2 linked regions of the Homo sapiens genome follow. The protein of the gene in region 2 interacts with the protein of the main gene of each other region in a pairwise test. Each region holds a gene or a part of one and is shown on either strand. Other genes may lie near its edges.

What was found.
Region 1: the proteins of ZNF564 (region 2) and GOLGA7B interact in a two-hybrid assay, tested with the Homo sapiens proteins (one large-scale study listed by BioGRID and IntAct).

The regions. Positions count from the first base shown.
Region 1 is NC_000010.11:97,855,682-97,860,747, forward strand, and holds part of GOLGA7B (golgin subfamily A member 7B), read left to right. Parts: intron 1-3,776; coding exon 3,777-3,902; intron 3,903-5,066.
Region 2 is NC_000019.10:12,523,801-12,527,976, reverse strand, and holds the end of ZNF564 (zinc finger protein 564), read left to right. Parts: intron 1-60; coding exon 61-1,531; 3' UTR 1,532-2,604; downstream 2,605-4,176.

The DNA.
Region 1 (5,066 bases), on a different chromosome or scaffold from region 2:
CTTGTTCTTTACTCTTGAAAATACAACATTATAAAACCTTAACCAGAGCAGACATGTTAACAATTAACTTATTTATATTACCAAAGCATTCCTTATTTCTCCGAGTTATCATAGGTTCCTAGTAGATATCAAGGGGATTTCCTCAATGAAAACCTTGATTAGAGGAATCAACTCATATAAGCCTACAGGAGGGCTTATACATTATTTAATCCAGTCACAATACTTTGAGATCACATTTCGTACATACAGCAAGGTCCACCTGGATTTAGGAAAGTCACATATAGTGTTTTTGGATTCCCACCTTTTCAGGACCTTGATCTACCAATTATCTGCTCCTTCTACTTTATTGATAACCTTTCCTAGTTATTTATTATTTCCCAAGATTTTTGTTTGTTTTTAAATTTTATTTTATTTTAGATTCAGGGAGTACATGTGCATGTTTGTTACATGGGTATATTGCATATTGGTGGAGATTGGGCTTCTAGTGTACCCATCACCCAAGTAGTGAACATTGTACCCGATGGGTAATTTTTTAACCCTCACCCCCTCCCCTCTTTTGGAATCCCCAGTGTCTATTATTTTCATCTTCATATCCATGTGTACCTCTTGTTTAGCTTAGATTTATAAGTGAGAAAGTGTGTTTTGTGGTATTTGGTTTTCTGTTTCTAAGTTAGTTCACTAAGGATAATGGCCTCCAGCTCCACTCATGTTGCTGCAAAAGATATGACTTTATTATTTTGTATGGCTGTGTAGTATTCCATGGTGTATATATACCACATTTTCTTTATCCAGTCAAGTGTTGATGGTTGTTACTCTGAAGTTGGTTCTATGACTTTGCTATTGTGAATAGTGCTATGATGAACATATGAGTACAGGTGTCTTTTTAACATAATGATTTATTTTCCTTTGGGAGGATACCCTGTAGTGGGATTGCTGGGTTGAATGGTAGTTCTCTTTTTAGTTATTTAAGAAATCTTCATACTGTTTTCCATAGAGGTTGAACTAATTTACATTTCCACCCACAGAGTATAAGTGTTCCCTGTTCTCTGCATCTATGCCAGCATCTGTTGTTTTTTTAATAATAGCTATTCTGATTGGTGTAGCATGATGTCTCACTGTGGTTTTAATTTGCATTTCTCTGATGCTTATTGATGTTGATCATTTTTCATGCGTTTATTGGCAGCATGTATTTCTTCTTTTCAGAAATGTCTGTTCATGTCCTTTGCCCAGTTTTTAATGGGGTTGTTTTTTTTCTTGTTGAATTGTTTGAGTTCCTCATAGATTCTGGATATTAGTCTTCTGTCAAAGGCATAATTTGCAAATATTTTCTCCCTTTCTGTAGGTTGTCTGTATACTTTGTTGATTATTTCTTTTGCTGTGCAGAACTTTTTAGTTTAATTAAGTCCCATTTGTCTATTTTTGTTTTTGTTCCATTTGCTTTTGGGGACTTCATCATAAATTATTTGCCTAGGCCAATATCCAGAAGAGTTTTTCCTAGGTTTTCGTCTAGAATTTTTACAGTTTCATGTCTTAAATTTCAGTCTTTAATCCATGTTGAATTAATTTTTGTATATGGTGAGAACTAGGGGTCCAGTTTATTCTTTTGCACATGGTCAGCCAGTTTTCCCAGCACCATTCATTGAATAGGGAGTCCTTTCCCCATCCCATTTACAATAGCCAGACACACACACACACACACACACACACACACACACACACACACATTTAACCAAGGAAATGAAAGATCTCTATGAGGAGAACTACAAAACACTGATGAAAGAAATCGTAGATAACACAGACAAATGGAAAGACATCCCATGCTAAAGGATTGGAAGAATCAACATCATTAAAATGACCATGCGGCCCAAAGCAATCTACAGATTTAACACAATCCCTATCAAATTAGCAATATCATTTTTCACAGAATTAGAAAAAACAATGCTAAAGTTTATATGGAACCAAAAGAGAACCTGAATAGCCAAAGCAATCCTATGCAAAGAACAATCCTATGCAAAGAACAATCCTATGCAAAGAACAAATTACATTGCCTGACGTTAAATTATACTACGAGGCTATAATAACCAAAACAGCAGGTTTTGTATGGGTTACTGGTACAAAAATAGACACATAGACCAATGGAACAGAACACAGAACCCAGAAATAAAGCAACATACCTATAACCAACTGATCTTTAACACAGTCTTTCCCCGGTGTTTAAGCAAGTTTAAGTATCTGTCATCCTAAATCCTCCCCTTCAGCAGGAATCTTTCCTGCTTCTTGTGATCTGACCCTTGCCTCCTCTACAATCTCATCTCCCACTGTTTCTTATCTAATCTGCAAACCACCTCCATTCTTGCTGAAATCTGCCTCTAGTAGACCATGTGCTCTATCTTTGTCACTTTGCGCAAGCTTCTCTTTTTGCCTGGGTTGCCTTTTCCTCCCTCTCCACACTCTCTGCCTGCCCCCTGCTACTGGTAACCCCTGGACTTCCTTTATGACTCAACACAGGCTTCAGGAGGCCTTTTCTGAGTGAGCATTTCTGGGTAAGATGTTACTTCTCTGTGGCATTTGTCACTGTCTAATTCATTATATATTTACTTGTCTTCCTCCCTGGAGCTCACAGACTCTTTTGCTCAGCACCCCCAGAGCTTGGCACTAGGAGAGACTCAATAAATGAGAGCTGAGTGACTGAATGGATCCAGCTTAATTACATGGGATGAACTGGCTGTTGTTCACTCTGCCTTTGGGGCTTGGTCTCCACGTGTTCTCAGTGTTGGGCATATTTCAACCAGTGGGATGCTTGTCTTGAATGTGGGTGACTGAGGCTGGAGAGGTGGAAAAAGTGGGCTTGTTCTGTGGAATTGAGCCCATTCCCCTCAAACACTAGAGTCTGTGTCAATGTGAAGTCCACAGATGTGCACAAGGGACAGATATCTCCCCTCTCCTTCCTGCCAGGGAAGGCTATTTCTTCCATTTCTGGCCTCTGTCCATTTCATCTACACTATTCTCTGGAGAAGTTTGGACATTCATGGGCCCTTTGTTTCCTGTGGTGAGAAGTGCTGGATGTGAAAAGCATCTGGGGTGCTCTCTGGCCGGGGCCATAAAACTCGGCCTGGACCCCAGTCTCTGAGTTCAGGGGTACCTCAGGTATTCCTCTGTCCCACATGTTCCCTGCCTGCAACTCTGTTGTGAGCTCCACTTGGCAGGACTGGAGCACTGGTCTTGTTCAGTGCTGGGTTCCCCAGGCACAGGGTCTCACAAGTGAACGCTTGGTACTTGGTGAATGAATGAAAGTATGAAAGGTTCTTCTGTGTGTGTGTGTGTGTGCACGTGCACGTGCGAGAGAGACTCAACTTTGGCCCTGCTTTAGGCTTGTTAAAAATTTTTTTAGAGTTGGGGTCTTGCTCTGTCACCCAGGCTGGAGTGCAGTGGTGCAATCACAACTTACTGCAGCCTTTAACTCCTGGACTCCAGCAATGCTCCCACCTCAGCCTCCCAAAGTGCTGGGATTACAGGCACAAGCCACTGCACCCAGCCTTGCTTTAGGCTTTTAAAAGATCTCTCTGGGATAGCTCAGGGCAGCTTCTTGGGTAGACCCCACAGCCCTGCCTCCCTTGGCCTCTTGGAGCACCTGTAGAGTGCCCAGCTTGTCTCTGCATGCTGGGAACTTTCCTGGTGTTAGTGCTGGAAGACCTGCATTCTGGGAAACCCCTGCATTTGGGATATGCCGAGATGGATGGTCACTCTCAGCACATGCCGCCCGCACGTCTCCTCAGGTCCACAATCTGCAGGAGCTCCGGCGAAGTGCCTCACTGGCCACCAAGGTCTTTATCCAGAGAGACTACAGCGATGGGACCATCTGTCAGTTCCAGACCAAATTCCCCCCAGAGCTGGACAGCCGGGTAAGGATGCCTTTTTCTGCACTTGGAACCCAGGGCTGTGATGGAACTGAGGTTCTTATTGGAATGTATTTTATCCAGGATCCTATGACACATAATATCATAGGACACGTAACATGTTTGGCCACTTCAAAAGGATGAATTTTAAAAAATCAAAAGGATGATTCTTAATATTGTCTTACTGTCTCCTCATAGAAAATTAGAGCTGAAGGGATCTCAGGGATTTTCTGGTCTGGCTGCTCTCAAGTTTCAGTTGCCTAAAAATGATATAGAGAGCTTGTTAAACAAATGGAAATTCCTGAGTCCTACTGGATGATACAGGTGTTGTCCAGCAGTGCTGATCCAGTTGTTGGACTGTGGCTCAGGAGTCTCCATTTATTAGCAGCTGTTCTCAACCTTGGCTGTACATTAGAGGTTCCTGGGGAGCTTAAAAAATCCTGATGCTCAGACTGCAGCCCAAACCAACTACATTAGACTCTCTAGGGGTGGGACTCTGGAATCAGCATAGTTTTAAATCTTAATTTTGAAATGAATTTTAATCATGATTGTTTAAACTTTAGTATTTATTTATTTATAATTTTGTGGGTACCTAGCAGGGGTACATGAGATATTTTGATACAAGCATGCCATGTGTAATAATCACATCAGGGTAAATGGGGCATCCATTACTTCGGACATTTATCTTATCTGTTACAAACAATCCAGTTATACTCTTTTAGTTATTTTAAAATGTACAATTAAATTATTATTGACTATAGTCACCCTGTTGTGCTATCAAATACTAGGTCTTTTTTTTTTTCCCTTGATGGAAATCCAGGATGGAGTGCAGTGGTGTGACCACAGCTCCCTGCAGCCTCTGTCTCCCAGCTAAGGTGATCTTCCTGCCTCGGCCTCCCAGGTAGCTGGGGTTACAGGTTCGTGCCACTACTCCTGGCTAATTTATTGTAATTTTAGTAGAGACGGGGTTTTGCCATGTTGCCCAGGCTGGTCTCAAACTCCTGGGCTCAAGTGATCCGCCCTCCTCGGCCTCCCAAAGTGCTGGGATTACAGGTGTGAGCCACCATGCCCAGCCCAAATACTAGGTCTTAAGCCTTAATTTTTAATGAGGAATTCCCAGGTGAATCAGAATCAAGTGGTTCATAGATTACACTTGGAATTGCTAGTCTT
Region 2 (4,176 bases):
AATACCTATTAATAAATATAAAGTCACAAACCACTAAATCTTGCTTTCTATTTTTTCCAGAAATCATATGGAAGAGGGACTCAGTGAAAGTAAAGAATATGATCAATGTGGAGAAGCCTTCAGTCAGATTCTCAATCTTAATCTGAACAAGAAAATTCCTACTATAGTAAGACCATGTGAATGTAGTTTGTGTGGGAAAGTCTTCATGCATCATTCATCCCTTAGTAGGCACATCAGATCTCACCTTGGACACAAACCATATGACTATCAGGAATATGGAGAGAAACCATATAAATGTAAGCAGTGTGGGAAAGCCTTCAGTTCTTGTCAATCCTTTCGAAGACATGAAAGAACTCACACTGGTGAGAAACCCTATGCATGTCCGGAATGTGGGAAAGCCTTCATTTCTCTCCCAAGTGTTCGAAGACACATGATTAAGCACACTGGAGATGGACCATATAAATGTCAGGAATGTGGGAAAGCCTTTGATCGCCCAAGTTTATTTCAGATACATGAAAGAACTCACACTGGAGAGAAACCCTATGAATGTCAGGAATGTGCAAAAGCTTTCATTTCTCTTCCAAGTTTTCAAAGACACATGATTAGGCACACTGGAGATGGACCTTATAAATGTCAGGAATGTGGAAAAGCCTTTGACCGCCCCAGTTTATTTCGAATACATGAAAGAACTCATACTGGAGAGAAACCCCATGAATGTAAACAGTGTGGGAAGGCCTTCATTTCTTTCACAAATTTTCAAAGTCATATGATTAGGCACACTGGGGATGGACCTTATAAATGTAAAGTATGTGGGAGAGCCTTTATTTTTCCCAGTTATGTTCGAAAGCATGAAAGAACTCATACTGGGGAGAAACCCTATGAATGTAATAAATGTGGTAAAACCTTCAGTTCTTCCAGTAATGTTCGAACACATGAAAGGACTCACACTGGAGAGAAGCCCTATGAATGTAAGGAATGCGGGAAAGCCTTCATTTCTCTCCCAAGTGTCCGAAGACACATGATAAAGCACACTGGAGATGGACCTTATAAATGTCAGGTATGTGGTAGAGCCTTTGACTGTCCCAGTTCATTTCAAATACACGAAAGAACTCACACTGGAGAGAAACCCTATGAATGTCAGGTATGTGGGAAAGCCTTCATTTCTCTTAAAAGGATTAGAAAACATATGATACTGCACACTGGAGATGGACCTTATAAATGTCAGGTATGTGGTAAAGCCTTTGACTGTCCTAGTTCTGTCCGAACACATGAAAGAACTCATACTGGAGAAAAACCCTATGAATGTAAAGAATGTGGGAAAGCATTCAATTATGCCAGTTCCATTAGAATACATGAAAGAACTCATACCGGAGAAAAACCCTATGAATGTAAGCAATGTGGAAAAACGTTCAGTTATTCCAGTTCCTTTCAAAGACATGAAAGAGCTCATAATGGAGATAAACCTTACGTAAAGAATGTGGGAAAGCTTTCATTTATCACACAACCTTCGAATACCTGTGAAAATGAATAGTGGAGGACAGGTCTACAAGTATCTACATATCTAAAGAATATGGAAAGTCTTCAGTTTGCTTTCTGGGTTTCAGACTTGTTTGGGAGCTCACCCCTTTCTCCTGTTTCTCACTTTTGGAATAGGAATCTCTATCCTGTGCCTGTCTCATATTTTGGAAATACATGACTAGTTTGGTTTTCACCGGTTCGGAGCTGAAGAAGAATTTTGCCTCAGCATGAATTGAGTCTCATCCATATCTGAGTGATGTGATATTGAGATGACACTTTGGAGTTTGAGTTTAAACATTAGGCTTCATGCTGGAATTAACTGAGACTTTTGAGGCCTTTGGGATGAGATGAATATATTTTACATGTGATGACATGGATTTTGGGGGCCAGAGGTGTAATGTTTTGGCTGAGTGTATGCCACCTCAGATTCATATGTTGAAACCTTACCCCCGTGCCCCCCCTCTCCCCCACAATGTGATGGTATTTGGAGGCCCTGTCTCTGGTGGTTTTTAGGATTGGAGGACATCATGAAGATGGAGGCCTTGTAATTGGGATTAGTTTCCTGATAGGAATCCCTAGAGAGCTAGCTTTGCCCTTCACCATGAGAGGGTGCAGTGAGAAGATAGCTATCTTTGAACCGGGAAGCAGGCCCTTACCAGACATGGACTATGCCAGTGCCTTGATATTGGACTTCCCAGCCTCCCAAACCATGAGAAATAAATGTTTGTTGATTAATTAAGCTTTCCAATTTATGGTATTTTGTTTTAGCAACCCAAGCTAAGACACAATCCAATTTTAAAATGGAGGAAAGGACTTGAATAGACATTTCTCCAAAGAAGATACCCAGATGGCCAATAAGCACGTAACAATGCTCGACATCTTTAGTCATTAGGGAAATACAAATCAAACTCAAGACATACATAGCATCTCATTAGGATTAGTAGTATCAAAGATGGAAAACAAGAAATACTGTCAAGGATGTGGAATGTTGGAGAACATTGTGCACTATCACTGGGAATGTACAGTGGTATAAGCCTGCTGAAAACAGTATGGCAGATCCCCAGATTAAAATATAGAAATAACATATGATCAGCATTTCCATTTCTGGGAAAATAAAAAGATTGAAAGCAGGGCCGGGCGTGGTGGATCACGCTTGTAATCCCAGCACTTTGGGAGGCCGAAGCAGGCGGATCACAAGGTCAGGAGATTGAGACCATCCTGGCTAACATGATGAAACCCCGTCTCTACTAAAAAAAAATTAGCCGGGCGTGGTGGCAGGCGCCTGTAGTCCCAACTGCTCGGGAGGCTGAGGCAGGAGAATGGCATGAACCCGGGAGGCAGAGCTTGCAGTGAGCTGAGGTCGCGCCACTGCACTCCAGCCTGGGTGAGAGAGCAAGACTCCGTCTCAAAAAACAAAACAAAACAAAAAAGATTGAAAGCAAAGTCTCAAATAGGTTTTGTACACCTGTGTACATAGCATCATTCACAATAGGTAAACTCTGGAAACTACTCAGGTTTTCATCAACAGATGAATAAACAAAAGGAAGTTTATACATACAAGAGAATATTACTGAGTCTTACAAAGTAAGGAAATTTACAAATATGCTGCAAGATGAACCTTGACGTGCTAAGTGAAATGGGCCATTCATGTAAAGACAATACGGTATGATTCTACTTATATCAGGTATCTAGAGTAGTCATATTGATAGAAAAAGTACAATACCATTTGCCAAAGGTTAGGGAAATTGGGTAATGGATAGTTATTTCATGGGCATAGAGTTTCAATTTTGCAAGATAAAAAGGGTTCCAGAGGTGGATGGTGGTGATGGTTGCACACTAGTATGAATGTTCTTAATGGCACTGAACTGTACACTTAAAATTGATTATGATGGTGAATTTTATGTATGTTTTACACACAAAAAAGGGAGAAAAGACCACAGTACTGCATAGACCTTGTGGGACCTTCAGCATACCAAGACACTCTAGGTCTCTCTTTTTTTTTTTTGAGATAGGGTCTTGCTCTGTCGCCCAAGCTGGAGTGCAGTGGTGAGATCTTGGCTCACTGCACCCTCTGCCTCCCAGATTCAAAGGCTTCTCATGCTTCAGCCTCTTGAGTAGCTGGGATTACAGGTGCGCACCACCACACCCAGCTAATTTTTGTATTTTTAGTAGAAACGGGATTTCGCCATGTTGGCCAGGCTGGTCTTGAACTCCTGATCTCAAGTGATCTGTCCGCCTCGGCCTCCGATAGTGCTGGGGTTACAGGCGTGAGCCACTGCGCCTAGTCTCTAGGTCTCTTTCCTACTTGTTCTCAGCACTGTTTTTTTCGTTTTTCTATCCATGAGGGACCTGTTCCTACACAGTCCATTTGGATTTTAGTAGGCATTTAGATTTGATCCCCAGGATTGACTTCCCTGTCTCCTCCCCCCTTCACTGTAGACCTGGACCTCACTCCCAGACCCAGGGCCTATGATAACCACTTCCCTTTATTGAAGAGGGATACTTTTAATTTCCTCTGCACACTATTCACAGACATGTATATCAAATATATATCTGATAATTTAAGCAAATAGAAATTCTTTGCTCGGAAATCTTTAAGAATATGAGAAGAAATAGCAGCATATAGTGTCCAGAAAAGGTGGGAGAGAACTTCTTAGG